6 linked regions of the Homo sapiens genome follow. The protein of the gene in region 2 purifies or fractionates together with the protein of the main gene of each other region. This does not show direct contact. Each region holds a gene or a part of one and is shown on either strand. Other genes may lie near its edges. The genes, in order: ENTPD2, PLXND1, STAM2, ADCY9, VSIG1 and STAM.

Region 1 (5,323 bases), on a different chromosome or scaffold from region 2:
CTCTTCCTGGCCCGAGAGGATGCGTGCACCCCGGAAGTCAAAGGGGTACTGGGTCAGTGTGTGAGTCACTGCCATGAGCACACTGGTCGAGGCCTCTGGATTGGTCAGGCTGCAAAACACAGAGAACTCCAAGAGGCCTTCTCCCCAGGTGGCTGTGAGCCTGCTGTAGGGGTGCTCGGAGTCCGCCCTGCAAGGGGTCACAGCCAAAGGCCATCATGGGGACAGGGCCAGGGCACAGGCACACTCACTTGAGCAGGCGCATACCCGCTGTGGCTCCCAGGTAGAGGGGTGTGCCCGCGTGTCTCTCTTTGGGCACATCCTGAAGCGCCTGTTCGAGGCATCCAACAAGACTCTGGCTGGCCCCAGAAGGGTTGTCTGCATAGCTGGAGATGCCCCCACCTAGAGGGAGGCAGAGAGATGAGCCTATGCCTCACGGGCAGCCCCTAGGTGGGCCGTAGGCCAGGAGAGTGAGGGTGGGGGTGGGGGCCGTGGGCTCCCAGACCAGGTGGCACACCTTCCCTGCTTAAGCCCCCAGAAACGCCCAGGTTGGAGACAAAGGGGCCCAGGTGCCACCCGGAGACCAAGGCTGCTGCCTGCTGAGAGGGTGTGGGTGCAGGTGCTAGGACAAAGCCCTGGGCATGGTCAACCCAGGTTGGCCTCCTGAGGCCTGCCTGGGTGTGTCCGCCAGGCCCCCAGACCTCCTCCTGCTCCATCTGGGGCACAGAAGCCAATACTGGGCCCGGCGAGGCTCAAACCTCCCCACCTGCTGCCTAGGCTTCCTTTCTAGAATGCAAACGACTCCTGGCCCCACTCAGGCGCAGGGGCACCAGCCTCTCTCTTTCCAGGGCTTCTGCCTGGAGTGAGCCCCACCCAACACTAAGCAGAAGGACCTGCACTGGCTAAGGCTGGAGAGGGTCCCAGAGACCCTGCAGTGAGTGGGCGTCCTGGCTGGGCTGGGCTGGGCCTCACCTGGAACATCACAGGAGCTGTGCTGGCCCACAATGCCTGTGTCGTTCTCCTTGTCTGCCGGCCACTTGTAGATAAACATGGACGTGTGTGAAGAACCAGCGTCCAGGACGATGCCATACTGCGGGGGAGGGGGAGGGAGTCAGCCTGGGGTGTCCGGGGGCCCTGACACCCTGACACCAAACGTGAAGTTGGGTTCCTCCAGTTTGCCACCGCTCCCCCCCCCACCCAGTCATGTGCCAAGCCTCATGCTGAAGCTCAGAGGAGGCCAGGGCCTCCTCTGAGGCCGTGGTTGGAAGGAGAACAGGGAGGTGGTGGGGAGGTGACTCTTCCCTCCTGACTACCTGAAGCCAGCATGCCAGGGTCTGGGCAGCAGCCTTCCTGGCAAGGGCAGACTGAGGGACTGAGTCAGGGACAGAGGGACAGAGGGTCCCCAGGGACTTTTCCCTGGGGCACAAGTTTCCCAGGCTCAGGGAGAGGAAGCTCCTCTGCAAGAGGAGCTCCCTAGAGTCCCTCTTCCTTCCTCCCCTCTTCCTTCCTCCTCTGTCTCCTTCCAGCTCCTCTGACGGCAGCCCAACCTGAGGATGCAGGAGGCAGGGCCCCAGGTGAAGAAGGTCCACCGAGGCTGGCCGTGGGCCTCAGAGCCAGGTCAGCTCTAAAGACACTCTCCCTAGGCCTCCAAGCCAGGGCCAGAGAGAGAGGCTGGCCCTGCCTTGTTGGGGGTGCTGGGTGGGCCTTCCTGCAGACCTGAGTGGCACGAGCTTGTAAATGCCCTTTTCCAGCTCCTGCCCCAGCATCCTGGATCCACCTGGAAAGCTGGGGACCAGCCTCCCAGGCCCGGGCGCCAATTCCAGCCTCCGAGAGGGCCGCACCAGTCCATCCCGACCAAGGCTTCCCCAGAGCCCAGAGCATCAACAGGTCAGCGCGTGCACCGCCACATGGCCGTCCTGCAGGGCCGCAGAGCTCCCTGCTTCTGACTCCCCATCAGGCTGGGGGACTTGGCTCTCCACCCCACCCCCCTACAAGCCCAATAAAGGGTTAAAGGGGCCGACCAGGAGGTCCCTGGGCCTGCTGGAGTGGAGATCCAGGCTAGCCTGCTCCAACCTTTTGAGGACCGGCCAGGGCTGCTCCGGTCAAGCCCTCCTGTCTTTCTGGGCCACTCTCGTGTCCTGGCGGGGGCCCTGGGTCCTGGGGCTTGTGGATCCCCATCTGGGCTGAATACCCAGTCGATGTGGCTCTAACCGCACCCTCCGGGGCGGCGGCACAGGGCAGAAGTGGCCCGGAGTGCCCCTGGGGGCCCGCACAGGCCTGGGGGCGGGCGTCCGGCAGCACCCAGGGGGCATCGCTGGGCTATCCCGGGAGCGGGGACACAGCCCCTGGGCTGCGTTGACGGACTCGGCGGCGGGCGCGGAACTCCCGGGACTTGTTCCTTCAGCACCGCGTCGCCCTGGAAGCGCCACCGCCCCCCGCCCCCTCCGCGTACCCGGTCGGGGAGCGCAGAGCGCGGAACCCGGGACCCCACCCAGCCCGCCAGGAGCAGAGCACGGTGGGGGTCCCGGGCTGATCCTGCTCAGGTTCCCAGCCGCACCCCCTCCCCGGCTCCAAGCCCGGCCCGCTGCTCCCCAGACGTGCGCTGGGTGCCCGGGCGCGCACCTTGAGGGCGGGCGGCTCCCGGACGTCGCGGGTGGGGACGCACAGCAGTAGGAGGCCGGCGAGGCCCGCGGCGGCCAGCAGCAGCGGCGGCAGCAGTGACCGCACCTTCCCGGCCATGGGCGGGCGGGCGCGCGGGAGGACGATGCGTGGACCCGGAGAGTGCGGGGAGCCGGAGGCGGAGGCGGGCGGGGCCGCGGGACCGCGGGGTAGGGGCCCCGGGGCGGGACGAGGGGCGGGAGGCCGGGCGGGCCCGCCCATCACCGGCCACGCCCACGGGCGGACAGGTTTCGCCTCCGCTCCCAAGCTTCCGCCGTCCGGCCCGCGCAGGTGAGAGACGCGGGCGCGGCTGAGTCACCAGCACCGCCCCCCGGCTCCCGGGTCTGAGCCCGGGCGCCCCGCGGCTATGGCCCACCTTCCCCTTCCCGCCCACTCAGCAAGGGGATCCCCCGGCCGTGGAGGCAGGAGACCTGGCGTGGGGGTGGGCGGGCGAGGCTGGCTCGGAGGGTCCTGTGCTGGAGAGCCGCGCTTTTCCCGGGCCCGGGAAAGGAGGCCAGACTCGCTTGCAGGAATGAGGCACTGTCGGCTGCGGAGCCACGCGGGGCCCGGGCTGGGGACTCAGGAGGAAGCCGAGGGTCAGCACCTGTTTGTGGAGCAGGGCCCTGAGCGCCAACTCCCAGGGCTGGTGAGGACCAGGCTGGCCTGCGGGATGCCCTCCCGGCCAGCAAGGATCCGCCAGCCTGCGGCGCTGAGCCAGCGCAGGTCAGCTCCAGAGACACGCAGCTGACCCAGGCCAGAACTACCCTTGAGGCCCAGTCAGATCCACCTCACCTGGGCCCTGTACTGAGGTGAAGGTGAGGACGCAGGAACGGGGAAGGGGAGGGACGGCCCAGGTCACACCGAGCCGAGAAACAGGAGAAGCAGCACAGACCGGGCCAAAGGTCCATACCTCCCAGCCCAGGGCCTCAGCCGCGCCTGCTGCCCCCTCGGCCTGAGGGGAACAGAGGCTTGGGCTGCGGAGGCCAGAGGAGGCTTCCCCAGGACGGAAACAGGTGGGGCCTCTACGTGGCCTGAAAGGCAAGGAAGAGGGTCCCCAGGCCAAGCTTGGGGTGCGGGTCAGCAACAGGCTTCTGGGGACGGCTGGGGCAGGCGAAGCGCAGCTGGCCCCAGACGCAAGCCCTGCTCCTCCGTCCCACGACATGGCTGGCCTTTCGGCTCTGCAGCCTCACAGGCCCCGCATCCCAGCCCGGCCAGGGGCCACCCCCTTTGCGCCTGCTGCAAAGTGGGAATTCTTGTCCCAATAATTCCAGCCACACAGCGTCAGGGAGCCACGAGGCAAGGCCACCAGGGAGTGCAGGCTGCTGGGGCCCAAAGGGCAGCCCCATGGGGCAGGGTCCAGACCATGCCCGGCCTTCTGGAACGGGCAGTGACAATTGTGCTGGGATTGCTGCCTGGGCTGAGGGTCTGGCGCCACAGGCCCAGTAAAGGCATCTTTCTTCCAGCTCAGGACCCCAAAGGGAGGGGTGGGAACCCTGGGAAGCCTCTCTGCTGCCTCAGCCTCACAGCCCAGCCTGGCGGGGCTCCAGCAGGCAATCTCTGGGTGTTGCCGGTGCTAAGCTCCAGGCCCCAGGCCCCAGTTTCCCCCCACACACCCCAGGCCTTTCTTCCACCCCTGACCGCCCAGAGGAGGGAGAGGCACGCACAGTGCACATCATGCCTGAAAAGGAAGGAACAAAGGCCGCCCAGAGGCAGGGTGCTGCGACCCCCACTGGCCTGCGGTACCCCGCTTCCCTCCAGGCCCAGCGGGGCTTCCTGGTGTTCTGGACTCTTTTCATGGACAAAAAGCTCAAGCCAGGGAGTGGGAGGTCTGCCAGGCCTGAGAGGATGGGGAGGGAGAGGGGAGCTGGACTCTGCCCCGGGGAGACAGGCTCATGGCCGAGTGCCCAGCTTCGCCTGCGGAGGGAGAGGCAGGGAGCCCAGAGCGGCCAGGACAAAGGCTGAGGCTGAGCTCTCTTTGAGACGGAGTGAGGGCGGGGGAACGCCCCTTCCTGGCATGGACTCAGGGACCCTGGAAGGCAGACTTGGGAGAGCGTCAGAGGGAAGCTGGCAGGAGCTGAAGGGGTGGAGGGGCCTCTGGGTGGGGCAGCTCTCGGCTTCCAGGACCCTCTCGGGGATGGGGCCTCCAGATGTGCTGCACATGACCCCGGCTGAGCTGGGAACATGCGGATGCAGAGAGGTTAGGGGAGAACCCCTGGGGGAGGGAACTCGGAGCCTCCCGCCCACGCAGGGCTCAGACCTCCCAGGGAGGGGGGCTTTCCTGAGGCCTGCTGACATCTTGGCTGCCCTGCCTCAGTCTCCACATCAGAAGCTTGTGCTGTGTGGCTCACGTCTGTAATTCCAGCACTTTGGGAAGCTGAGGCAGGTGGATCACTTAAGGTCAGGAGTTCAAGACCAGCCTGGCCAACATGGTGAAACGCCGTCTCTAATAGAAATACAAAAATTAGCCGGTTGTGGGCCGGGCGCGGTGGCTCACTCCTGTAATCCCAGCACTTTGGAAGGCTGAGGCGGGCGGATCATCAGGTCAGGAGATCAAGACCATCCTGGCTAACGCAGTGAAATGCCATCTCTACTAAAAATACAAAAAATTAGCCGGGCGTGGTGGCGGGCACCTGTAGTCCCAGCTACTCGGGAAGCTGAAGCAGGAGAA
Region 2 (4,812 bases):
GACCAATCCTGCAGTGCCAGCTTTAATGATACAATCTCATCCCTGCTCACAGCAACCGGCTGCTTTCCTGCCTCCCTGTCTTTGCCTGCGCCGTTCTCTCTGCCTGGAAGGCCATCCTCTTTCATCTTCAACCTCTAAAGCCAGACACAGCCTTGTGTGCCCCCAACACACCGCATGAATCTCAGAGCTCCTAGCCACCCATCACCCCTCTGCCCACCCCTTCACTGAATGCTCGCTTGAATGGCTTTTGACTTTCAGGGGCTACTGCCCAGAGCCTGGCCCGGTTTTCAGATGATGTTGTGCCTGACCAAGCAGGTTGTCCAAGCTCATACTGGCTTTCCCACACCGGGTTCTCAGGCCTGTGTTCAAAGCCAGTGCCAGGCACAGCTGCAGCATGTGCAGTTGGTCTGCAGCGATACAGAGTTTCTGATGGAAGGTACTGGCTTCTAGGTGTCTCCCTGTCTGAATGAGTCACTCATCCCACATCCCCTAGACCTGAGATCTTTTGGTTCCCCTCCCAGGAAGATCTCTGAGCTCAGCCTCAGAGAGTCGAGGAGGCTACCCATGGTCGGCACCCCACTCTGGCCCTGTGCATGGGCCTGGCCTGGTCCTGGGAACAGCTGACCTTGCCCAGCTGCAGGTCAGAGATGGAGCAGGCGTCGATGAAGGCCTGCGCGATGACTGAAAGGCAGGCGTCGATGTGGTCTGTCTTGTCGATGTCAAAGACAAACTGGGGGTTCTTCAGGATGTTCACCCAGAACCGGAGAGGAAGGCTGTGGGGTAGGGTGACAAAGACAGTGAGGGTAGGGTGGGGTAGGAAGCAGTCGAGGGACAGTTGTGGAGGAGAGAGCTGGCTTTGTCCCTCAAGGGCCTGAGGTTGGAGCCTTGTCACAAGATGTGACCTTTGGGAACCTTAGTTTGCCTATCCCTGGCCAGCTGGGGTGCAGTGGGGCTGAGAGCCCGGTTTCCTGCTGGAGCAAGGCAGGAGCTACAGGGCTTAGCTGTACCCCCCAACCCCCTCCTGAGCCTCCAGTCAGGTCCTGGTTCTCATTAGAACCAGGTGCCGGCCCCCGGGCACCCCTGGCTCCTCCCTGAACCCTTGCAGGCAGCAGGAAGTCCGACATTAGCAGAGCAGCTGTGGCAGGGCTGTGGGGGGCAGGGCCTGGAGCTCTGGCCTTGTCCTCAAGAGGCCAGAGAGGGTGAGCAACACCCCCACCCCCACCTCAGGCCACCCAGTGACTCAGCAGCCTGGGCATGTGTACCCCCAGAGCTCTAGGAAGCTGCTGCCCTGCACAGAGGCGCCTGGGCTGGTGGTATTCTTCCTGAGGGTCAGGCTGGGTTTCCAGCAACTTCTTGTGGGGGTGCATGACCCCGACAAGCTAAGAGGTGCCTCAAAGGAGGGCTACCAACTGGGTAAGAGATTCAGATAATGTAGGGCCGAGCCTGGCTCTACTGTCCCAGGCTGTGTGGTCTTGAGCAGGTGCTGCTTCTCCGAGCCTCAGTGTGCTTATCTGTGAAGTGGAGCTGATGGTGCCCACCTGAGAGGGGTGCGGGAGAATGATAGTAAGGGCAACACCTAGACCATGCTTCTGGGCACTCTTCTAGTTAATTCCCACCATTAACATGGGTCGCATTTTACAGTGGAGGGGAAACTGAAGCACAGAGAGGCTAAGTCACTCATCCGAGAACACACAGCTGGGAAATGGCAGAGGAGGGCTTGACCCCAAGCAGGCGAGGCCAGAAGACTAGACTCTGAACCCCCTGCCACAGGGGCCCCAGTGGCACAGTGAAGTCCACACGGCCCCCCCACCCGCCACCTGTTGGTCTTCCAGATGTGTAGGGTGTCGGGGTCGGAGATTCCCCTCTTCTCAGCCTGCTCCTCCAGGAAGTCGAAAAAGTACTTGACAGCCAGTGGGGGCTTGTCTTCACGGATACTCAGAATGGCCTTGAACAGGTCATCCAGAAACTTCTGCAACGTGCCCTGCGGGGGAGTGGGGTGGCCGCCGTCAGCCCCGGGCCACGTGCAGAGGGCTAGTGGGCACCCTTGGTGGCTCTGCGGAGCTTGAAATGCCAGGCTGCTGAATGAGGAAGCCACATGGCATCAGGCTGGTCACCGAGCCTCTCTGGCTCACTTGCCTCCCAGAGGCGTTGAAAGGACTAATCGAGGCACTGGCACATGGAGTCGAGAACTGGAAGTGCCAGAGTATGGGCTGTGGGGTGCCGGCGCTGCCACTGAGCCACGTGGCCTTGGGGACATCACTGATCCCTCTGGGCCTCTGCTGTACCCTGTTACGTGGGCTAACATAGAAGTCTCTGTCAGGCATTTTTCCTGGCTGTGAGAAATGCCTCCTCAAGTGGGACCCTAAGCCTTCAGCCTCTTGCCCCTCCAGCCCCACAGGGGAAACAGGAAGAACTCACACCCCTCTCCCAGCCGCGGGTGCACAGCTGGCCCTGAGCAATGACCCTCTGGAGCTGGGGCTGGAGCCTTGTACCCACTGCACAGAGGGGAGACTGAGGCCGGACTCACCTTGGTGGAGAGCAGGCGGGTCAGGTAGATTTCCGGGAGCACCTTCTTGCGATGGCTCTGCCGGTGAGACTTCTTGGGCTCCGCCAGCTCGTCCGTAGGCAGCACCTGGGAGGCCGGGCAGTGGTCAGTGTCCGCACCAGGCCCCATCCTCGGCCGCCTGTGGGAGGTCTGGCTCTGCCATGCTTCTTAGCACACAAGGGCTGTGGTTCCCTCCTGATTCTGGGCCCCATCCCTACTCCCCCACCCCCCAGCCTTTCGCAGGGCTGGGAGCACTTTTCCCAAGAGGCCCAGGGCCACAGAAAGCCAAGGCCACACCCACTGAGGGGCTGGATCCCCCGGGGCCGAGGTTGGGCACTCACCAAATGGAAATACTTCTCTGTGTCCAAGTCTTTCACTGTGAGAGGAAAAACACAATAAATAAACACGGGAGAGGAGAGGAGAGAAACAGAAATGAAGACAGAAAGATGGAGTGAGAAACAGAAACAAGACAGAAAGATGGGGAGAGAAACAGAAGCAGAGACAGAAAGATGGAGAGAGAAACAGAAACGGAGACAGAGATCCAAAGAGACAGTCAGAGAGAATGAGACAGAGATGCAGAGACGCATGGGGAGACTGAGTCTGGGAGAGACGGAGAGAGAGATAAGTGAGATCCAGAGACACACAGCGAGCGAGACAGAGTGAGGCAGAGAGAGAAAGACACACACACAGTGACCCGGGATGGAGGGACTTGGAAGGAGGGACAGCGGTGGAGAGAAACAGGAAGATGCAGCCACGGGGGAGGAGGGGCCCCAGGCAGGCGGGGGTGGGTGCCTTTGCCCACCCCACCCCTGAGCCCAGAGCTCCTGCCAGCCCAGATTCCCAGGCTGCTGGGAGAGACTGAGACTCTGCTCTCAACCTTAGAAGGGGACCCCGAGACCCAGAGGATCCCGGGCTCGCAGGCCTGGCAGCCAGGAGGCTGTGCCTGGGGCGTCTGAGGGTGTGGAGGGGGCACTTGAGGCAGGGACATGGCCCAAGGCTGAGACGGGCATGCTGGCCCCCCTTCTGGCCTGGCTGCTGCCCAGACCTCCTGGAACTGCATCCCGCCCTCCCGGGGCCTCTCTCCAGCTGCCGCAGGAAATCAGCTTGAGGAGGCCTGGTGTGGGCCCTGCCCCAGCAGTACTGGGTCAGAGGAGGCTGGCCCCGCCCAGCCCCCACCAAGGAGGCCTCAGCCCAGGCCAGCCCTGCCTCTCGGAGCCTCAGCTTCCCCACTGGGGCATGGGATGGAAGCCCCTGTCCACACGCAGCCTGGGCTCCCTTCCCACGTGCACCCGCACTACCTCGGCCCAGTGTGTTGTCCTTCTTGTCTATGAGACTCATGGCCAGGGAGGCACCTTCAGGGATCTGATGGGAGGGGAGAGGCCGAGGTCAGAGGCCGGAGGTTGGGGTGGGGGCATGAGGGTGGGGAAATGGGGGCGGGGGGCAGGGCTGCACCTTGTAATGGGCCAGCGTGTTAAGCTTCTTGCGGCCGTCTTCCACCACTGAGGTGTCGTCCAGGTCCCGAAGGATGTAGCTCTGTGTGCTGGAGGCGAACCACTCTGGGGGACAAGGGACAGGCCATCAGGGTCCGGGCAGGGAGCTGGGCCTGAGGGGTAGGTACCGGCCCAGCCACATAGGGAGAGGCCTCTCGCTCTCTCCATGTAAACTGAGGCAAGCCATACCTCTCTCTGAGCCTCCATTTTCCCATCTGTAAAATGGGGAGGGCAGGAAAGAGCTGGGGGAGAGTGTGAGGGTACAAAGAGAAGGTGCCAGGGTGGAGGGCACAGAGGAGGAGCTCTGGAAATGGCCTTGTCTGCAAGGCTGTTCATGTTACAATTGCTGATGAAACCCTTGGCCTAACCAAGACTCCTATAAAACCCACTCCAGGCCCCGCGCGGTGGCTCACACCTGTAATCCCAGCACTTTGGGAGGATGAGGCAGGAGGATCGCTTGAGCCCAGGAGTTCAAGACCAGCCTGGGCAGCACAGCATGACACTATCTTTACAAAAAGTAAAATTAGCTGGATGTGGTGGTGCACTCCTGTAGTCCCAGCTACTCAGGAGGCTGAAATGAGGGGATCACTTGAGCCCAGGAGGTCGAGGCTGCAGTGAGCTGAGATTGCGCCACTGCACTCCAGCCTGGGTGACAGAATGAGATCCCGTCTCAAAAACAAACAAACAAACCAACCCTACTCCAGCATCCCTCCTTTAGGAATTAGGAAGCCTTTCCTGAAGGCTTTTTGCTGTTGTCCGTAGTTCACTCACACTGCA
Region 3 (4,831 bases), on a different chromosome or scaffold from region 2:
AAACAAATCAAATTTCCATAGATTTGGCACTGTGATTTGACAGCTCTCCACTTTTAGTTCTAAGATGGATAGATTGGTAGAATCAGATTGCTTCCCAAAGAAGTATAGTTTCTTTCCTTTAAGTCTTTTAACATTTTAAATATATTATTAGGCACATGTTTGGGAGATGAGTGAATCAACTTTTTCTTTCTGATTAATAGACATATCCAGTTCAATCACATGGTGGAAACTATATGGGTCAGAGCATTCACCAAGTAACTGTTGCCCAAAGCTATAGCCTAGGACCCGATCAAATTGGTCCACTGAGATCTCTGCCTCCAAATGTGAATTCCTCAGTGACAGCACAGCCTGCTCAAACTTCATATTTAAGGTAAGTTTTGGGAGCTGTGTTAATTTTATATGTGTTAATTTTCCTAGATTTTCAGAATGAGAATATATAGACCCTTATTAAGATGAAGTTACAGAACTGTTTATTCATAATCCTGTGAAGTGGAATGGTGTTACCTTAGCTTTGCTACCCATACTGAGATTATTGCCCGCCCTTAAGCTTACAGTCTGCATCCTTGGGGCAAAAGCTAATTGTCCTTTATGAGACTAAGCCCATGATGTGCTTAGCACTGTGCTATAATCAGCCTGTGAAGTAGTCCCAGACTTATTTATCTGCATGCACTCCTAAAAATTAGAAAACTGTTGTTACTTTGACCCTTAAGAAGGGCGTTTGAACTGTGGAATTTGTAGTTCAGGTTTTTTTGTTTTGTTTTTTTGAGACAGAGTCTCCCTCTGTCACCCAGGCTGGAGTGCAGTGGCTAGATCTCTGCTTACTGCAACCTCCGTCTTCCAGGTTCAAGCGATTCTCCTGCCTCAGCCCCCTGAGTAGCTGGGATTACAGGCACGCGCCACCATGCCCAGCTAATTTTTTTGTATTTTTAGTAGAGACGGGGTTTCAGCATATTGGTCAGGCTGGTCTCGAACTCCTGACCTCGTGATGTTCCACCCGCCTCAGCCTCCCAAAGTGCTGGGATTATAGGTGTGAGCCACCACGCCTGGCCAAGTTTTTTTTTTTTTAAGACAAGGTCTCACTCAGTCGCCCAGGATAGAGTGCAGTGGCATGATCTCAGCTCACTACAGTCTTGACCTCCCGGTCTCAAGCTATCCACCCACCCTCATCAGCCTCTCCAGTAGCTGGGACTACAGGCAAGCACCACCATGTTCTGCTAATTTTTGTATTTTTTTGTCAAGGTGGGGTTTCGCCATGTTGCCCAGGCTGGTCTCAAACTCCTGAGCTCAAGGGATCTGCCTGCTGTGGCTGCTCAAAGTGCTAGGATTACAGGCATGCACCACTGCACCCAGCCCTATAGTTCTTTTTTTAAATAAAAACACTTTTACTCTAAGAGTTGTATTTAAATCTTTCTTTCTATTCATTTTGCTTAACCATACAAAATGTTCATTCAATATAATCATATGTAGATGATCTATAAGGTCTCTTCTCACCCTCAAACTCCATGAGTATGAATTTTAGATATTATATGAATATTAAATAAATCTGTTTATATTAGTGTTCAGTTAGAATAAAATATAAAATTTTGCTATGTTTGGTAACACTAGGAACTGTGGAGAAAAAACTGGTGTAGTTTTGAAACTAATTCTCTTTTATTGCAAGCAGTATATTTGGTGGAATTTAAAATTACATAATTTTTTTTATTGAAACTTTTTTTATAGATGGGGTTTTATCACCCAGGCTGAAGTACAGTAGTGTGATCATAGTTCACTGCAGCCTCCAACTCCCGGGCTTAAGGGATCTTCCAACCTCTGACTCCTGAGTAGCTGAGACCACAGGCGCATACTACACCCAGCTAATGTTATTAATTTTTTGTAGAGATGGGTATTGCCATGTTGCCTGGGCTGGTCTCAAAGCAGGCTGACCTCAAGCAATCCTCTCACCTTGGCCTCCCAAAATGCTGGGATTAAAGCCATAAGCCTCCAAGCTCAGCCCTAAAACCGCTGGGCATAGTATGTATATATATGTGTATACACACACACACACACACACACACACACATATATATATATATATATATTTTTTTTTTGGGGACGGAGTCTCACTCTGTCACCCAGGCTGGAGTGCAGCAGCATGATCTTGGGTCACTGCAAGCCCCACCTCCCGGGTTCATGCCATTCTCTTGCCTCAGCCTCCTGAGTAGCTGGGACTACAGGCGCGTGCCACCACACCCAGCTAATTTTGTTTTTGTATTTGTAGTAGAGACGGAGTTTCACTGTGTTAGCCAGGATGGTCTCGATCTCCTGACCTCGTGATCCGCCCTCCTCGGCCTCCCAAAGTGCTAGGATTACAGGTGTGAGCCACCGCTTCCAGCCAAAAGTATATATATTTTAAGAGAAATGTATGCCACAGTAGTTATAGGAACAAACAAGTCTTGCAATTTGGTGTGATTTTTCAGCTTAGTTTGTGAAGTGTCAATAAAGAAACTATAGTTTCGGACTATCCTGAGGGTTGATTTTGGGCCCTATACAGACTATGCTGTTTTCCTTTTAAAAGTAGAAAGTCCTTACTGAAGGAAAGCTTGAAGGATGTTTACAGAGAAGAGGTGGACTTCTTTGTGCTGGATTGGGAGATGGGGAAGGGAGAATATGGGCTGAAAGTGGCATCTTGAGCCAGGGCTCCATTCTCATTGCAAATGGCCAAGGGTACTTCTGTCAGGAACAGTTTGCATCTCCTCAGGTGGTTTCTGAATGTTTTTAGTTAGAGATTCTGGAGAAGGGAAGTTAAATTGGCCTTAGAATCTTACATTTTGTTTGTTTTCAAGTACCTCTCTCTTCTTACCAAATATAAAAATTACATTAACAAGCTCGGCATGGTGGCTCATGCCTGTAATCCCAACGCTTTGAGAGGCCAAGGCCAGAGGATCACTTGAGCCCAGTAGTTTGAGACCATCCTGGGCAACATAGCAAGACCCAGTCTCTACAACAAAAATTTTTTTTTAATTAGTTGGGACTAATTTAAATTTTTTTTAAATAGTCCCAGCTACTCAGGAGGCTTAAGGCAGGAGGATTGCTTGAGCCCAGGAGTTTGAGAATGCAGTGAGCTATGATCTGCACCCCAGCCTGGGCAACAGAGCAAGATCCCATCTCAAAAATAAGAAGAAGAAAATTTGATTAACAGTATTCAATGGCTGGAATGATTAAATTGTAATCAGAACAGCAGAGCTACGTAAGCTTAAAAAGAAGATGGAAAAGGCATTTTTGTCATGATGATTGATCTCTAACCTTATATATTGCAAAGTAAATATGGTTTTCTTTTTAAAATTTTGTTTGTAGCACTGGACAAGACACTGTTTCCAATCCTACTTATATGAACCAGAACTCTAACCTACAGTCAGCTACTGGTACAACTGCTTACACACAGCAAATGGGGATGTCTGTGGATATGTCATCTTATCAGAACACTACTTCCAATTTGCCTCAACTGGCAGGCTTTCCGGTGACAGTTCCAGCTCATCCAGTTGCACAGCAGCACACAAATTACCATCAGCAGCCTCTCCTTTAGAAACAAATCAAGCATTTTCTTGAAAGCCTTCATAAGTGTATTATTCAGTCCTTGTGATACCAACCTGAAAATATTAAAACTTTTTTCCCTCTCAACTCAAAAGGACCATGAATAAATAAAGCACAAAAACCTCTCTTATTCTACAAGGCCATAAAAGGTTTTTTTTTTTTTTTTTTTTCAGTCCAGTTTGTTTGAAGTCAATCTTTTCATCAGAGGCAGCTTAAAGATGCTTTCAGTTAGTTTTGTCTTACTTTCAGATTTCTCTACATAAATCTAGATACTCATTAAGTAGCCTTATGACAAACAGTATGAGATACTTATGACAAACTCGCTCTGTCACCCAGGCTGGAGTGCAGTAGCATGATCGACAGAGTGAGTTTGTCAAAAGTATCTCATACTTATAAACAGTATGAGATAGGAGGATTAAAATATTATTTTAAAGAAACCACTGTTTCCCCCTAAAATGTCATAAGAGCACTGAAGAACTTGAAATATTTTTTTCAGAGTTTCTCACACACTTTAAAAGTCTAACTTTTTTGTGTGTAAGCATTTAGCTTGCCAGCATATTTCTTTTTGGCTCCTTAAATTGCGGTTGTGTTTGCAGTATTGTCACTTTTGCTCTCACTGTTATGTTGAATAATAATTAGCATATAATTGTCTACAGAAGCAAGAGCAATCTGGAAGGAACAAAAATGTTTTCTGTGATTAACAGTGAAGACCTTGTAAATGCAGATGTGTGATAAAGCATTTAGTCAGTCCCCCAAACAGTCATGCCAACTGTGAAGGAATGTCCCACAAAACATTTCCATTCCCTGAGGAAAAACATTTTCTTTCCTACATGTATCTCTGGTATTTAGAATTGTCACTAATAACCTTTTCAAGTGATTTTGGCTATTCTCTAATGAAGATATGGTCCATTTGTTTTTCTTCCTGCAATGTGGTGTGCAGAGATGCTGCATATCCTTTTTATGGGATTGCGTGTGAATTTGAACCATGAGACATTCCTAATAATTTGTTGTGAGATATACCAAGCATGGATGATAAGTGTGTTTTTAGTGGTGTGTTGTTTTTTTAAAGAGGTGATTCAAGTACCGTTGCTAAGCTGTCAACATACCAAGCTGTTGAAAAAATTGACCATTTCTTTCAGAAGTAATTCTCAGCCTGTGGAATAATAGCAGGTGAAGACTTCATAGAAGGCGACAGATTGATAGGGAGGCTATTGAAGCAGTTTTTCTGAAGCCTGCATTTTGAGTTAGTTTATAGTGCTAA
Region 4 (4,831 bases), on a different chromosome or scaffold from region 2:
GGTTGTTATCACAAAATTGTGTTTATAGTTAGCGTAATTTTGGTGCTATTGTCACATATGCAGATTGCATGTGAAACCTGCAGAATGATAAAGCTCAGTGATTTTAATAGCAGGGAAATCAACCCCGCTTTCCATGACTCTTTCATTCATTTATGAATTGCCAGCAAATAGTAATATCCTTTCTATACTGCAGAAAATTACTAGAAACTAAGGGAACGTTAACATGATTTCAGAAAGCAAATATAGCTGTGTTAGCCTCTCTCCCTCATACAGTGACTATCAGAAGTAAATTAGACGAGGCTGGGCGCGGTGGCTCATCCTTGTAATCCCCAGACCTTTGGGAGGCCGAGGCAAGCGGATCACCTGAGGTCAGGAGCTCGGGACCAGCCTGGCCAACATGGTGAACCCCCGTTTCTACAAAAAATACAAAAATTAGCCAGGCCTGGTGGCAGGTGCCTGTAATCCCAGCTACTCGGGTGGCTAAGGCAGGAGAATCACTTGAACCTGGGAGATGGAGGTTGCAATGAGCCAAGATGGCGCCACTGCATTACAGCCTGGGTGACACAGCAAGACTATGTCTCAAAAAAAAAAAAAAAGAGTAAATCAGGTGAAATATGTCAAGTGCCTCATGTGCCCCCCACACAAAGTACGGCTCATCACGTGTGTTCCTTCCTGTCCTTGCAGCACGGCGGACACTCTCCTTTCTGTGACAGGTATCCAGTAACTTCCAACATTCTCAGACTCAGAAGAGAAATAATTCTGTCCCAGGACACTGACCCTCTCTCCTCCCCTGACTCAGGGAGTGTGGACTGAGGGAAGAGCAACCACGCAGCTGCAGAGAGGATGTGCACAAGGCCACATTTTAGCAGTCAAGTGGCAGAAGCGACACTGCTATTAGCTGTGCTGCTCCATTTATTTCTTATTTGTTTTTTGAGATGGAGACTCGCTCTGTTGCCCAGGCTGGAGTTGCAGTGCTGCGATCTCAGCTCATTGCAGCCTCTGCCTCCTGGGTTCAAGCGATTCTCCTACCTCAGCCTCCTGAGTAGCTGGGATGACAGGCACCCGCCACCACGCCCAGCTAATTTTTGTACTTTTAGTAGAGACGGGGTTTCACCTTGTTGGCCAGGCTGGTCTTGAACCCCTGACTTCAGGTGATCTACCTGCCTCGGCCTCCCAAAGTGTTGGGATTATAGGCGTGAGCCACAGCGCCTGGCTGAAAATCACCCTTTGAGGCATTATAGTGAAGACAGAGGCAAGAATCATCAATGAATGTTAAATCTAGGGAATTCTGATGGGGAATGAAATATGTACAAGATCTTCAAGTATTTTCTCACAGATTGCTTATTAGTCATAAGAGGAATATAATAACCCTAGATGAGACAACCCGGCACCACCTTGCCTAATTAATCAAAATTAGTATCACTAATGAGGAACAGACGGGCACTGCGTGTCCCTGGAGAGGACACCCTGAGGAGGACACGGCATCCCTTCTGCAGTCTCTGCCTGGCCAGAGGGAGAGCCTGAATCTAACCAATCCAACTTCAGGAATATTTGATAAAAGGACTGGACCTGTATTTTTCAAAAATGTTACCATTAGGCCAGGCACAGGCTCACACCTGTAATCCCAGCACTTTAGGAGGCCGAGGCGGGCAGATCACCTGAGGCCAAGAGTTCGAGACCCGCCTGGCCAACATGTTAAAAACCCATCTCTACTAAAAACACAAAAATTAGCTGGGCATGGTTGTGTATGCCTGTAGTCCCAGCTACTTGAGAGACCTAGGCAGGAGAATTACTTGAACCTGGGAGGTGGAGGTTGCAGTGAGCCGAGATTGAGCCACTGCACTCCAGCCTGGGCAACACAGCAAGACCTAGTCCTTATAAAAAAAAAAAAAAAAAAAAAAAAAGCCAGGCGTGGTGGCTCACGCCTATAATCCCAGCACTCTGGGAGGGTGGGGTAGGTGGATCACCCGAGGTCAGGAGTATGGAGACCAGCCTGGCCAACATGATGAAACTCCATCTCTACTAAAAATACAAAACCTAGCCAGGCATGGTGGTGGGTGCCAGTAACCCCAGCTACTTGGGAGGCTGAGGCAGGAGCATCGTTTGAACCTGGGAGATAGAGGCTGCAGTGAGCCAAGATCGCGCCACTGCACTGCAGCCTGGATGACAGAGCGAGACTCAGTCTTAAAGAAAAGAAAAGAAAAAGGCAGAGAGGCTTCTGCCTGCAACCTTTGCTTTTTCCCAGACAGCCCCAGTCGTACCTGTCTTCTTTGATAACGTCCACAAAGTGGGCGTCCGTTTTCTCCCGGATGTTCTTGAACCTCAGCGGAAGGAGAGCCGACTGGTCCAGGCTCACCCCTGCCCACCTTCCCTTCTCCTGCAAGATCTCACACAGAGAAGTCTGACTGTTGGTGAGCTTCTCCTCTTGGGGAGGGCTGAGGAGCCCGTTCTGAGTTTTGGGATTAGGTCCTCCAGAAGCCTGCCTCGAGACAAAGAGGACGCAGACACGGGAAGTGAAGTGGCACCGGGCACTGGGCACACACGCCTGTCCCACCCCGACCTCCGCTGCGGGGCGCTGCTGCACTGGGCGTGGGACTTTCTGACCTGCGAGGAACCCCCACCCCCCTGCGCCTACAGACCTGCTCCAATCCCAGCCCTGACTGCCCGTCTGCTCCTTCCTGTTACCCAACAGTGCCCAGTGGTAACGCTGGGTGTTCAGGCTGCCAGGACATTGAGACATGGGAAGAGTCGGTGCGGAGGTGGAGGGGAAGGGAGGAAAGTGAGGAGCCGAGGCCCCCAGAGTCTGCTTAGGCCAGAACCACGGTTCTGGGAGCAGGGTGCATGGGTCGGGGGTCCAGGAGAAGTATGACGAGGGGTCCAGGGCTGTCAGGGCACAGGCAAGGTGGATGGAAACGGGCTCGTGTCGTGGGTGTCCCCCGTGGCTGTGGGAAGGCATGGGATGACCTGCACCTGCAATCCTTTGGCAGATGGAGAGCAGATGGAGGACGAGAGCCCGCGCCCCAGGTGAGTCGCCTGCATGAGCCCCCGCCGACAGGCTCTCGCGGGTGGGCTGAGTCCTGGCCCTGGTGTCCAAGTCTGGTTTTCCTGAAAGCCTTCCTGCCACCGGCCCTAACTCCCAACCTCTCTCTTCACCCAGCCTTTCTCGCCGTGAAGACCCCCTCTTGTCTCTGCCCGTCTATATTCTCTCATAAACTGAGTCCAGCTTCCAGTACCACAAATCCCCTCCCGGCACTCGAATCCACGCATTTTAAACCCTTATTGGCCTTTAAAGGAATCCCGCCCAGCTCAGCCCCTGAGCGCTGGTTTCCACGTGGGTTGCTGCTGACCCTCCCTCGAGCTCCCTGCCGGTCTCTTCAACACCCGGAGGACCCGCGGGTGCGGAGTGCTGTTACCCAAGAGGAGTTACTCTCAGAACTAAGAAGTCGACAAGACAGGAATGTCACCTTGGGTGGATGCGCCAGGAGAGGAACTGACAGGAACAACAGCCATGAGCTTGTTACCTTGGTGCTGTTTTTATGCTCGTCTTGGCAGCCGTTTTGAGGTGCTCCTCCCTCGGCGCCGGCTTCAGATTTGGGAGCAAATGTGATTCCGCACGAAGGGCAGGTCTAGAAGAAAAACACAGACTGTGGGGACACACCCAGAAACCGCGACTGCCACCCTGAATTCAGGCAGGTCCGCTGTTGCCATCTGCCGTCACGCAGCATGGTGGTGAGCAAGGGGAAGGCACACAGAACCGCTCGGGGATGAGCTGAAAGCCAACGGGCAAAGTGACAGTGGAAACACACAGAAACCCGGGCACGAACGCAACAGGACCCAAAAATGGAACCGGGAATGTTCACTGACTGAACAATGGATCAACAAACTGTGGTCTATTCGAACAATGGGATATTACTCAGCCACGAAAAAGACGGAAGCACTGACGCCTGCCACAGCATGGTGAACCTCGAAAACATTATGCTCGGGGAGGGAAGCCAGACACAGCACAGATATTACGTGATCCCGTCTATGTGAAATATTCAGAAAAGGTGAATCCTTGGAGGGAGAAGGCAGATTCCTGGCTGCCAGGCGGGACCGGGGGCAGGAAGGGGGAGTGGCTGCTAAGGGGCGTGGGGTTTGCTACGATTCGAATGTTTGTGCCCCCTCAAAAGTCAGACGCTGAAATCCTAATTCCCAAGGGGATGGCATTGGGGGGCAAAGCCTTGGGAGGTAATTAGGTCATGGGGGACAAGCCTTCAAAATAGGATTAGTGCCCTCATAAAAGAGGCCCCAGAGGAATCCCTCGTCCCTTCGCCCTGGGAGAAGGCACCATCTGTGAAGCAGGAACGGGTCCTCACTGGACACTGAATCTTCCGGGACCTTGATCTCGGACTTCCCAGCCTCCAGAACCCTGAGAAATACATTTCTGTTGTTTAAAAGCCACCTGGTTTGTGGTATTTCAACAGGGTTTCTCTTTGGGATGATAAAAATGTTCTGAAATTGATCACGGTGATGGTTGCACAACCTTGCTAAATATACTAAAAACCACTGAACTGTACACTTTAAAAAGATCGATTTTTAAATATTTTTTGAGATGGAGTTTCACTCTTGTCACCCAGGCTGGAGTACAGTGTCACGATCTTGGCTCACTGCAACGTCCACCTCCTGGGTTCAAGCGATTCTCCTGCCTCAGCCTCCTGAGTAGCTGCGATTACAGGTGCCTGCCACCACGCCCGGCTACTTGTTTTGTGTTTTTAGTAGAAACGGGGTTTCGCCATGTTGGCCAGGCTGGTCTTGAACTCCTGACCTCAGGTGATCCACCCGTCTTGGCCTC
Region 5 (4,831 bases), on a different chromosome or scaffold from region 2:
AGACCCTATCTTTTACATTTCCCCATGTCCATTGCTTAGCACAGTAACTGGCACGTGTGCTCAGGGTTTGTTAAATGAATTCATGCATGAACGAGTAAATGCATGGGATTGATGCTCACTGCTGGGTAACAAAACATCTGAAAGATACATTGCTATGAGAGTCATCTTTAAGGAAATATCAACACCTCTCCCCACAATTAACCTGTCTCTCTTACCCACCTGTCCCCATCTTGCCTCACCTTTCAGTCAGGGCAAGCAAAATTGTCACTCATATACAATGAGATTTGAGAATTGCAAATAGTCGCTGCAATTTTTAGAGAAAATTAGCAGTCTCAAATTTTCCAAAAAGCCTACATTTGGAGGAGGCCTTTGTTCTTTGCCCAATTAACAAAAACAATATTTTTTAGAGTTCCTAAACAAACAAGGAAATCCACAGACCCTTCTGCCTCTTACCTTGTCTGGATCCTGGCTGCTTAAGGAAAAGTCATGACACAGAGCTATCTGACACAAAGACTCATGGGAAAAAACACCTCTGAGATGAAGTGACCCTCAACTTCTTATGGAAATTGATTTGGGATCCTCTGAGCTTTAAATTTAAGAATATTAACCTTCTTGTCTAACTTTATCTCAGGGCTATTTCCAAGCTCTGAGATGAAGAGACTTGGCTTCTTTAGATTGTTTCTGGTCAGAACATCCCAGAACCAGGAAGCAACAGAAAATCATTAGCTAATCCCTCCAGTTTTTGAACATTTAAAAACCCCTTTGATCTCCAGTATTTCATTTTATAGGTAAAATAACAAAACTGTTCATAACAAACCTGTAAAGAAGACAGGGCAGAAATTATAACCCCATCTCACAATGGTCAGAGAAAGGTGGACTGACTTGTATAAGGTCACTGAGTACAGAGTAAGATCTAAAACTCAGGTCTTCTGAGTGCCAGTTTGATGCTTTGGCATTTATAGCACATCACTTAGTTCCCATGTATATAACTAACTAGTTGATATGGTTTGGATCTGTGTCCCCACCCAAACCTCATGTCAAATTGTAATCACTAATTTTGGCGATAGGGCCTGGTGAGAGGTGACTGGATCATGGGGGCGGATTTCCCCCTCGGTGCTGATCTTGTGATAGTGAATGAGTGCTCATAAGACCTGGTTGTTTAAAAGTGTGTGGCATCTTCCCCTCCCCTTCCTCCTGTTCCAGCCATGTGAGACATCTTGCCTCCCCTTTGCTTTCTGCCATGATTGTAGTTTCCTGAGGCTTCCCAAGAAGCTGCTATGCTTCCTGTACAGCCTGCAGAACCGTGAGACAATTAAACCTCTTTTACTTATAAATTACCCAGTCTCAGGTATTTCTTTACAGCAATGCAAGAATAGACTAATACACTAGTCTTCCAAACTGAAACAGAAACTCTCCCAGGAATTTGCTTGAGTAATACTTCTCTTGTCTGTTCCTGTACCCCAATTCCTGGCACAGAACTCAGTAAGATAAAAATATGATTGATTAAGCTAACCCACTCTTAAAAAATAGCTCTTAGGTACCTTTCCCTCTTTCCCAGGTGGGTAGATGCAGTGGCAAACCTCACAGTAAATGTCAGCTGGTTCCTTTGTGGCATTACCTGAGTGGCAAGCCAGGACAACTGTAAACAGTTCTCTTGGGTATGCACCTTGTTACCAATTGCTGCTTTTCCAAGCTACTCAACTATTAAGTCACTGATTTGATGTAGTTCCTCCTTTCTTGTGATGTGTGCACACAGCTTGAGAGCAGCAATGACTAGATCAGCTTCATTTGGGGCTACCTAGAAGTGGGAAAATGCTCATCTCAACTGGTCTGTCTGTAAGAGTTGAGGATTGGCAGCCCTTTCATCCCTTGCTTCGATACTTCCCAATACCAGCCTGCAGATGGAAGTTTAGCCCACATTGTCCTCTCAGACAGAGATTGTAAGGACTTCTAGAAATGGCCAAAATTGGGAGCTTCCCAAGGGCAAAAACAACACCTCCATCACTGTAACTCAATAAATACTGAACAAATGAGATTCCAAATTCATTTTAAGAGCAGATACGGCTTGCCCAATATCATATAATGAATATTTGTATGTAAATATGTTGATTCTCAACACTAGATTAATTTCAGTCCTTTTTCCAAATAACATTAGCATTTTAAAAAAGGGACTCTCCTGTCTTTATTTAAAAGAATAATTTAATGGTGGGAATTGTGTCGAGCTTAAAAGGAATAATAAGTTGACAGTAGTCTCCCCCAGGTAGATCTGGCTGTAAATGGAGGTTTCCTCTAAAAGAGTTGCTAGTGATCATTTTGTGGGACAGTGGATTGTCTCATCTGTTCTCATTCCATCCCTCAGAGATAGGGATCACTGGAGGTTGGGTCATCTACTGCTGTCATTTTGGCAGCCCGTTTGCACAATTGTTCTGCATGTTTTATGAGTGATTTCTCAGTGTTACTGTTTTGGTTGGGCTGGTGGCTTGTCTCTATTTCCCTGATAATGAAAATATTAGGGAGTATATTTACCTACAGAGACTTAATTGGCATCATAACTCACTGTCCTGGCTCATTCAGTGTCCTAACTTTTTCCAAGAAAAGAAAAAGCAGAAAAAAGTGCTCATACCTAACACACTGACGTTGAGGATGCCTTGGTTTTGGCCGAGAAAGTCTGGGGGGTTGTTAACATCGCAGATGTAAATTCCACTGTCTGCTGGCTGCATATGCGAGATAGTGATAGATGCATTACCTGGATCGTTGGACCCTGTAATTCGATCTTTAAATTGCCCGATGGCTACAGCTTGTCCACCTTGAGAAAAGTAAATCTAGACAGAAAAATAACAGAAGTGAGAACTGGAGAGAGTCCAGGACTAGGATAAGCTACCTGAAAGCTTCTTCTAAACACATTACCTTTGATAAAGAAGCAGCATCTTCCCCCCACCAGGAACAGGTCCCTGTGGCCAAGGTTTCTCAACTCAGTGGGGCACTTTAGTTTGCTCACAGCTGCGCATTTGGCCCTCAGAGCAGCTCTGTGATGTCATCAGGGCAGGGATTAGTATGCCTATCTTACAGAGGAGGAGGCAGCTGGAGCTGACAGGATTCAACACCTAAGCTTGGGCTAGGAGATCAAGATGCTCACTTAATGAATCCACCTGAGAGAAACTCATTATGTAGAACACAAATGTCTGATGGGAAACCAAAACCATCATTTTTTTTTTTTTACCATTTTATAAACTTCTTAAAATTTGAATTTACCTTACCCAGTGAGACTATCTGGTTTCCTTAAATGTTCAAATGTTCATGCTCCTTTTAGACACACCTACTCTTTTGGATAGACAAACTTGGGTTTGTTTTGTTTATTAGAAGCAAAGCGGAAAAGCATCTTAGAAATCATCTGGTCCCATCCCTTTATAGTGGTGTTGTGAAGATGAAACTAAGAAATCTAGTAAAGGACCTCGGAAGTGCTCAGCCAATGATAGCTACCATCTTTCTCCCCATGTGGCAGAAGGCAGAACTGGAATTCTTCTGTCATTTAAACAAATAAGGCATCTCAGACCCAGAGAGATTAAGTGACCCATCTGAAGCCACAAGGGCTCATTTATTATTATTATAACTTATTAAACTTAAGATCTGGATTCTAGTCCCATTTCTATTAAAGAGCATAGATACTTAGATCATAATGGCAACTGTGGGAGCAGCATGATGTGGTGGAAAGGGTCCTGGTCTAGGGGTCAGGTGGCTTGAGTTAGTCACAGCTCTGCCCCTCACTGTGATATAGTTAGGGGAGGTGGCCTCTAGTCATGCCTCCATGGCAGCCTGGTTTTAGATAAGAAACAAAGTTATTTAATCTCTCCAACCTTTACTTTCCACATCTGAATGAGAAAAGAGAGTAATGTTTTCCAAAGTATGATATGTATTTACCAAGTATAGGCATTTAAGTTGATTTTAGGTAGTATATAAATGAAAACTTACAAATTTCAATGTGTATTAGAAACAGAAAAATCTAGCACATTAAATCTATGACTTCCTGAATATTGTTGCATAGGGTAGATTAAGGTAGATATTTTTTAAGATTTTAAGAAAACAAGTCAATACAGAAAATAACATTAAATAACAAATAGTGCTGGTGATACACAAATATGACAAAAATCATGTAGATGGTACATGAATGACTGAAGCTGGGAAATCACTGGATTAGGTAATTCCTGAGGTCCCTTCATAATACACACCTTCTATGTACATGTTTTGTTGGTTTCATGTAAATGTATATTATTCAAGTGATTGTTATTGTTCAATAAACTGTATTGTCTTAGTCTGGTGAGACTAATTTTTCATAAAATCTACTGGAAGGCCTTACAGTTCATTTAATTCACTTCCCTCAGTTTACAGAAGAAACCAAAGCCCAGAGAGGTTAAAAAATAAAAGGCAAAATTGACGGTTGAGACAGATCTGGAATCCAATTTTCCTAATTCCTTGTACTGTGGGCTTTACCTTAACAGGCCAATAAAAGAGGGAAAGCAATTAGAAAACCAAAAGATATTGTCTAGATGAATTCAAATGTATTCTCCTTTAAGCAGAAAGTCAATATATTTTAAAACTAAGGCAGAAAGCTGGATTTTGAGGGAAAAATCCCAGGAAAAGAGTACATTTACAGAGAAAACTATTTGTTTCTCTCCCGTTTTTTCTAACATCAACGTGTTTTCTTGCTTGCATTATAAATGCAGCCATTTATAATTCATTCATTCACACCTACTGAAATCACAAACTCTTGCCCCAGAATGGTCTTGTTTGACTTCCAAACCAGAAAGCCAGGATTAACTCCAGGTATTCAAGT
Region 6 (4,831 bases), on a different chromosome or scaffold from region 2:
GTACATATGGCACAATCATTAATTCTTCCTTTTCTTACAAGAGTAAGTCCCTTTGTGGACTGAAACGCAGTTTTCACTTGCACTGAAGGCTGTCCTCTAGAGCAGCAGTGCTTCTCAGACCTCAACGTGCATATAAATCCTCTGAAGATCTTGTTAAAATGGAGATAATGAACCCATAGGTCTGGAGTGGGTTCAACCATGCTGCATTTCTAACAAGCCTCCAGGTAATGCCAGTGATGCTGGTCAAACCAAGTTTTGAGTTAACAAGAACCAAAGACTCTAGATATTTAGTGGGCTTGCATTTTCTCTACCTATTCTAGGTGGGTTCTCTGCAGTGAGTCTACTCTTTGATAAATAAACATTGTTTCTGTTGTCAAGGAATGTATAATGTCTTGGATTATTCTGTTTAAGATTTTTCCTTAATTATACAGATTCTAGAAACTATACTGAGTAGTAAAAACCAGCTATCAGTTATGAATGAATGAATTTTCAAAGACATAATTTTTTTAAGAAAATTTTAAACCAAAATTTTTTTAAGAAGAAGAATGTCCTTTGCTTCCTTCCTCTCCCAGATACATTTTTGAGTCTTCACATCTCAAGAGTGCTCAGATAAACTGGAAATGCCTTGGGAAGAAAGCACATGTAGGTCTGGATGAATGTAGATAAGCTACATGACTCCCTGAAGTGGTCAAAACATAAGCCCCTCCACACTCACAGATTTCTGTTCATGGTTTCACATCACTCATTACAGTCTGTCCCAGTCAATAAACTGGGGAAAGACAGTGTAGTAAATCAGCACATATTTTAAGCCTCTTGATTAGTTGGGCATCCTAAAGGAAGGTTACCCAAAATAGAAATAGGAATAAAAAAGACATTTCTTGATTTTTTTCTACATGACATAAATTAGAGACTGAATTTTTTTGGCACAAGGGTGGACAGGAGAGCAAAGTTAAGCTATTTAGCCATATCCACTGGGGAAAGGAAGACTTATGTACTGGTCGGCTCTTACTAAGGAGAAAATGCTTCAGGTGCTTCTCTTCCCATTTACCCCTTCTAAAGTCCTCTCATTGTTAATAGAGGAATTCATAAATTTCCTCCACAAAAGAATCTCTCAAGTCATCCCTAACTTTTAAGGATATCCTGATTTCTGAGCTATCATTCTTTGTAGAAAATTATAGCATTAAGAGCATTTAAAAAGACAGTGTTACCTAATTAATAAAGCTATTTTGTGTATATTATTAAAACTGTACTGGCTGGGCCTGGTGGCTCACACCTGTAATCCTAGCACTTTGGGAGGCCGAGGCGGGCAGAACACCTGAGGTCAGGAGTTCGAAACCAGCCTGGCCAACATGGTGAAACCCACCTCTATTTAAAAAAAAAAAAAATTTCCAGGTCTGGCTGCACGTGCATGTAGTCCCAGCTACTCAGGAGGCTGCGGCAGGAGAATCACCTGAACCCAGGAGGCAGAGGTGGCAGTGAGCCGAGATCACGCTACTGCACTCTACCCAGGGCGACAAACAAAGACTCCGTCTCAAAAACAAACAAACAAAAACTATACCAAAAAATTTCAAAAACTGCAAAATGTTAAACCAATTCGTTTATAAAGAAGTAGAGAGGTTAGAGCACATTAATATTCCATTATAATACTTTTCTGGCACCTCTGAATGCCAGAAAACTAGTATTACTAACTAGCAATACAACTAGTTACTAACACAATTAGCTAACGAAAATTCCTCTGAAGTAGTAAAAATTACCTGGGAATGAAGAAAAAAATTCAAATAAATATAGCTATTTAAGAGAAACAAACTGTAGCACACACACAACTTCATTCCCAAAATACCTGAGAGCCAATAGCTGGGAACGTAACTCCTTGTTCCTTAAGGTTCTTAATCATTGCTGATATTAGACTAAGCTGTGGATCATTCTTAAATTCATCTGTCCATTCAACCATAAGAGCCTTTAATTTTTCACATACTTTAGGATGACCCTGTAAAATAGAAAAAGAAATAAAAGAGCACCAATTTCCTAGCCAATGATTTAATACAGACATTTTAAATAGTAAAGTTATTAAGTGATGTTTTTTGAATCACAAGTTATGCATAGCTATAGACAAGAAAATATAGTTATTCGAAATAAAACTAATGTTCACACTATGAAAAAACCCATCATATATATCTCACTTCAAATTAAAGCATTAAATAGGTAATAAGATTTTGGAGATCTGAAAGGACTTTTCAGAATATTTTGCAACGAAGCAAGGTTTGTACATCAGTAAGACAAGGAAAAGTGTCTGCTTTTTGCAAAGCAATAAAAAAGTGGGAAGGAGAGAATAAATGATACAGTTCCTTTATTCCAAATTCCTGACTTCTTAATGTTCATGACTATGCATTTTTTCCATGATGCTTAATTATCTGGGGCCTAGTTTGAGGTACACTGCATGTTAATCATTTTGAAAATTTAATTTCTTCAAAATAACATAACTTTTTTTCCTTTCTTTTCTTTTCTTTTTTTTTGGTTTGTTTTTTGAGACAGAGTCTCACCCTGTGGCAGAAGCCGGACTGCAGTGGCTCGATCTCAGCACACTGCAACCTCCGCCTCCCAGAGGGGGGTGGGGGATGCGGTTCAAGCGATTCTCTTGTGTCAACCTCCCGAGTAGGATTACAGGCGCGCACCACCATGCCCAGCTAATTTTTGTACTTTTAGCAGACGCGGGGTTTTACCATGTTGGCCAGGCTGGTCTTGAACTCCTGACCCCAACTGATTCGCCCGCCTCAGCCTCCCAAAGTGCTGCGATTACAGGCATGAGCCACCGTGCCCAGCCCAAAATAACATAACTCTTTATGGTTGATGTATAACAAAGATTCAAGTTAGTCTAAGGCAGGTGTGCAGGGCATTATTCTTCCGTATTAAAGAAAGAGATAAATGTAGTGAGTTTTCAAAATAAATTATTTTACTCATTGCTTATTAAGGGAAAAAACCTGGCCAGTTCATTAAAATACTGATGTATCTTCATAGCGGCAATAATTTGAAGTCTTACTATTTGATGTAATAGATATAAAGAAACCTTCACAGATACCAGAGAAGAAATAACTCCTCTATGAAATGTCATGAATGTATTTCAAACCAATGCTTACTAAATAATTGGCTAAAGCTTTTAAAAATGGAGAAGGTTAGACTTTTAGATTACTCTATTAGAAGAAAAAAAATTCTTTCTAAGTGCACATGTAATCTGTATTTTGGTCAAGGAGCATATAATGGATTTGCAAACGCTTTATTGAGACTATACATGAACTTAATTTGTTTAATAAAAGGAAATTTTTTAAAAGGGCAGGATGTTGGCTGGGCGCGGTGGCTCATGCCTGTAATCCCAGCACTTTGGAAGGCCGAGGTGGGCAATCACAAGGTCAGGAGTTCGAGACTGGCCTGACCATCCCCATGGTGAAACCCCATCTCTGCTAACACTACAAAAACCAGCCAGGCGTGGTGGCGCATGCCTGTATTCCCAGCTACTCAGGAGGCTGAGGCAGGAGAATCACTTGAACCCGGGAGGCAGAGGCTATAGTCAGCTGAGATCACGCCACTGTACTCCAGCCTGGGTGACAAAGAGAGACACTGTCTCAAAAAAAAAAAAAAAAGGCGGGATGTTATTAAGTACAAAACCAATATGTTCACTGTAAAACATTCAGAAAATAAAGAGAAGTCCTCTTGCCTATAGGAAGTCGTTTTTGGAAATGGCTGCTTGCACTATTATACATAGGTAAGTATACCACATTTTTCACCTACATTACAAAAAACATGGTATTAGAATCTCTTCATAAACAGTTGTAATCTCGATGGACATTCAGGACATTAAAAGACAATGTTTATTAATTAGTAGAAAATAAATATTAACTGCATAAAGCAGGAAAGGGAAAGAATTATCATTTAACCATGATGTTCGAAAAGTACAGAATTTTACATTCTTACTATATTTCTATACTGCTATTTTTCTACTGTAACCTGGAACTATTCATTTTTCCCAAAAACATGAGGCATTTTCCCTTTTAACATACAAAAACTTTTTCTTGATTTACAGTACTCCCCCTAAAAAGGCCAAAAATAATTACTTTTAGAATGCACAAATTTTTACTGGGGAAACTCACATATTACTAATTGAAAATTGAAAAATTTCTTGAACTGTGTGACTAGAATTCTACAGTTGAGTGGGCAGTTGTAGGGTCCCCAGTTCTCCCTGCTTTCTTTCTGTGTCCCAATAGAAAAACAGAGTGCCTTGTCCCGCTCTGTGACCTAGCCAGCTGCATGTTTTCCACCATAGGTTTGGACCCAAACTGGGGCCTTGAACATTCTCAGGCACTGATAAAGTTGTTCAGGTTGTGGCCCAAAACACTAAAAGATCAAGTATGTTGCTAAACACACAGAAACCAGCCCCAACCCTGAGCCAAATTCCTTAAACCCTCCTATAAACTGCAGCCCTCCTGTGTAAGTTCCCCTAATAAATCCTTTAGACTGATCACCCTGGCATTTAGTGCCTCTTTTTTTGGACTCTCATCTGGCCCTATCTGGAACAGTTTGGGGCAGTCCCTTGTGGAAACTCCCCCGCCACCACTTTTGAGGCAACTCCAGCTGTGGGTTCAGCCAGTAAGAATAGCAGTATAGTATTAAAATCCTGTGATGGCCAGGAAGCAGCCTTATTGATAAAGATAAAAACTCAACGGTGCCATAGACTTTTTGCAGTGTTTCTGAAAGGTTTTCCATTAGGAAAATACCTTGTGCCTACAAAAACAGTATGTAAAATAGACTGATATTATTTAATTAGATATAGAAATACCTG

Evidence for each region.
Region 1: the proteins of PLXND1 (region 2) and ENTPD2 purify together in Homo sapiens (co-immunoprecipitation; one large-scale study listed by IntAct). This does not show direct contact.
Region 3: the proteins of PLXND1 (region 2) and STAM2 fractionate together in Homo sapiens (co-fractionation; one large-scale study listed by BioGRID). This does not show direct contact.
Region 4: the proteins of PLXND1 (region 2) and ADCY9 purify together in Homo sapiens (co-immunoprecipitation; one large-scale study listed by IntAct). This does not show direct contact.
Region 5: the proteins of PLXND1 (region 2) and VSIG1 purify together in Homo sapiens (co-immunoprecipitation; one large-scale study listed by IntAct). This does not show direct contact.
Region 6: the proteins of PLXND1 (region 2) and STAM fractionate together in Homo sapiens (co-fractionation; one large-scale study listed by BioGRID). This does not show direct contact.

The regions. Positions count from the first base shown.
Region 1 is NC_000009.12:137,051,262-137,056,584, forward strand, and holds the start of ENTPD2 (ectonucleoside triphosphate diphosphohydrolase 2), read right to left. Parts: upstream 2,801-5,323; 5' UTR 2,737-2,800; coding exon 2,620-2,736; intron 2,115-2,619; exon of another isoform or gene 1,749-2,114; intron 1,615-1,748; exon of another isoform or gene 1,088-1,614; coding exon 970-1,087; intron 400-969; coding exon 249-399; intron 110-248; coding exon 1-109. UniProt on the Homo sapiens protein: In the nervous system, could hydrolyze ATP and other nucleotides to regulate purinergic neurotransmission. Hydrolyzes ADP only to a marginal extent. The order of activity with different substrates is ATP > GTP > CTP = ITP > UTP >> ADP = UDP.
Region 2 is NC_000003.12:129,557,803-129,562,614, forward strand, and holds part of PLXND1 (plexin-D1 precursor), read right to left. Parts: intron 4,102-4,812; coding exon 3,998-4,101; intron 3,908-3,997; coding exon 3,844-3,907; intron 2,922-3,843; coding exon 2,887-2,921; intron 2,633-2,886; coding exon 2,528-2,632; intron 1,982-2,527; coding exon 1,818-1,981; intron 774-1,817; coding exon 626-773; intron 1-625. UniProt on the Homo sapiens protein: Cell surface receptor for SEMA4A and for class 3 semaphorins, such as SEMA3A, SEMA3C and SEMA3E. Plays an important role in cell-cell signaling, and in regulating the migration of a wide spectrum of cell types.
Region 3 is NC_000002.12:152,119,305-152,124,135, reverse strand, and holds part of STAM2 (signal transducing adapter molecule 2), read left to right. Parts: intron 1-200; coding exon 201-370; intron 371-3,333; coding exon 3,334-3,562; 3' UTR 3,563-4,831.
Region 4 is NC_000016.10:3,989,885-3,994,715, forward strand, and holds part of ADCY9 (adenylate cyclase type 9), read right to left. Parts: intron 4,441-4,831; exon of another isoform or gene 3,627-4,440; coding exon 3,522-3,626; coding exon of another isoform or gene 3,465-3,521; exon of another isoform or gene 3,158-3,464; intron 3,025-3,157; exon of another isoform or gene 2,480-3,024; coding exon 2,262-2,479; exon of another isoform or gene 2,246-2,261; intron 1-2,245. UniProt on the Homo sapiens protein: Adenylyl cyclase that catalyzes the formation of the signaling molecule cAMP in response to activation of G protein-coupled receptors.
Region 5 is NC_000023.11:108,064,927-108,069,757, reverse strand, and holds part of VSIG1 (V-set and immunoglobulin domain-containing protein 1 isoform 2 precursor), read right to left. Parts: intron 2,823-4,831; coding exon 2,624-2,822; intron 1-2,623.
Region 6 is NC_000010.11:17,685,183-17,690,013, reverse strand, and holds part of STAM (signal transducing adapter molecule 1), read right to left. Parts: intron 1,988-4,831; coding exon 1,841-1,987; intron 1-1,840. UniProt on the Homo sapiens protein: Involved in intracellular signal transduction mediated by cytokines and growth factors. Upon IL-2 and GM-CSL stimulation, it plays a role in signaling leading to DNA synthesis and MYC induction. May also play a role in T-cell development.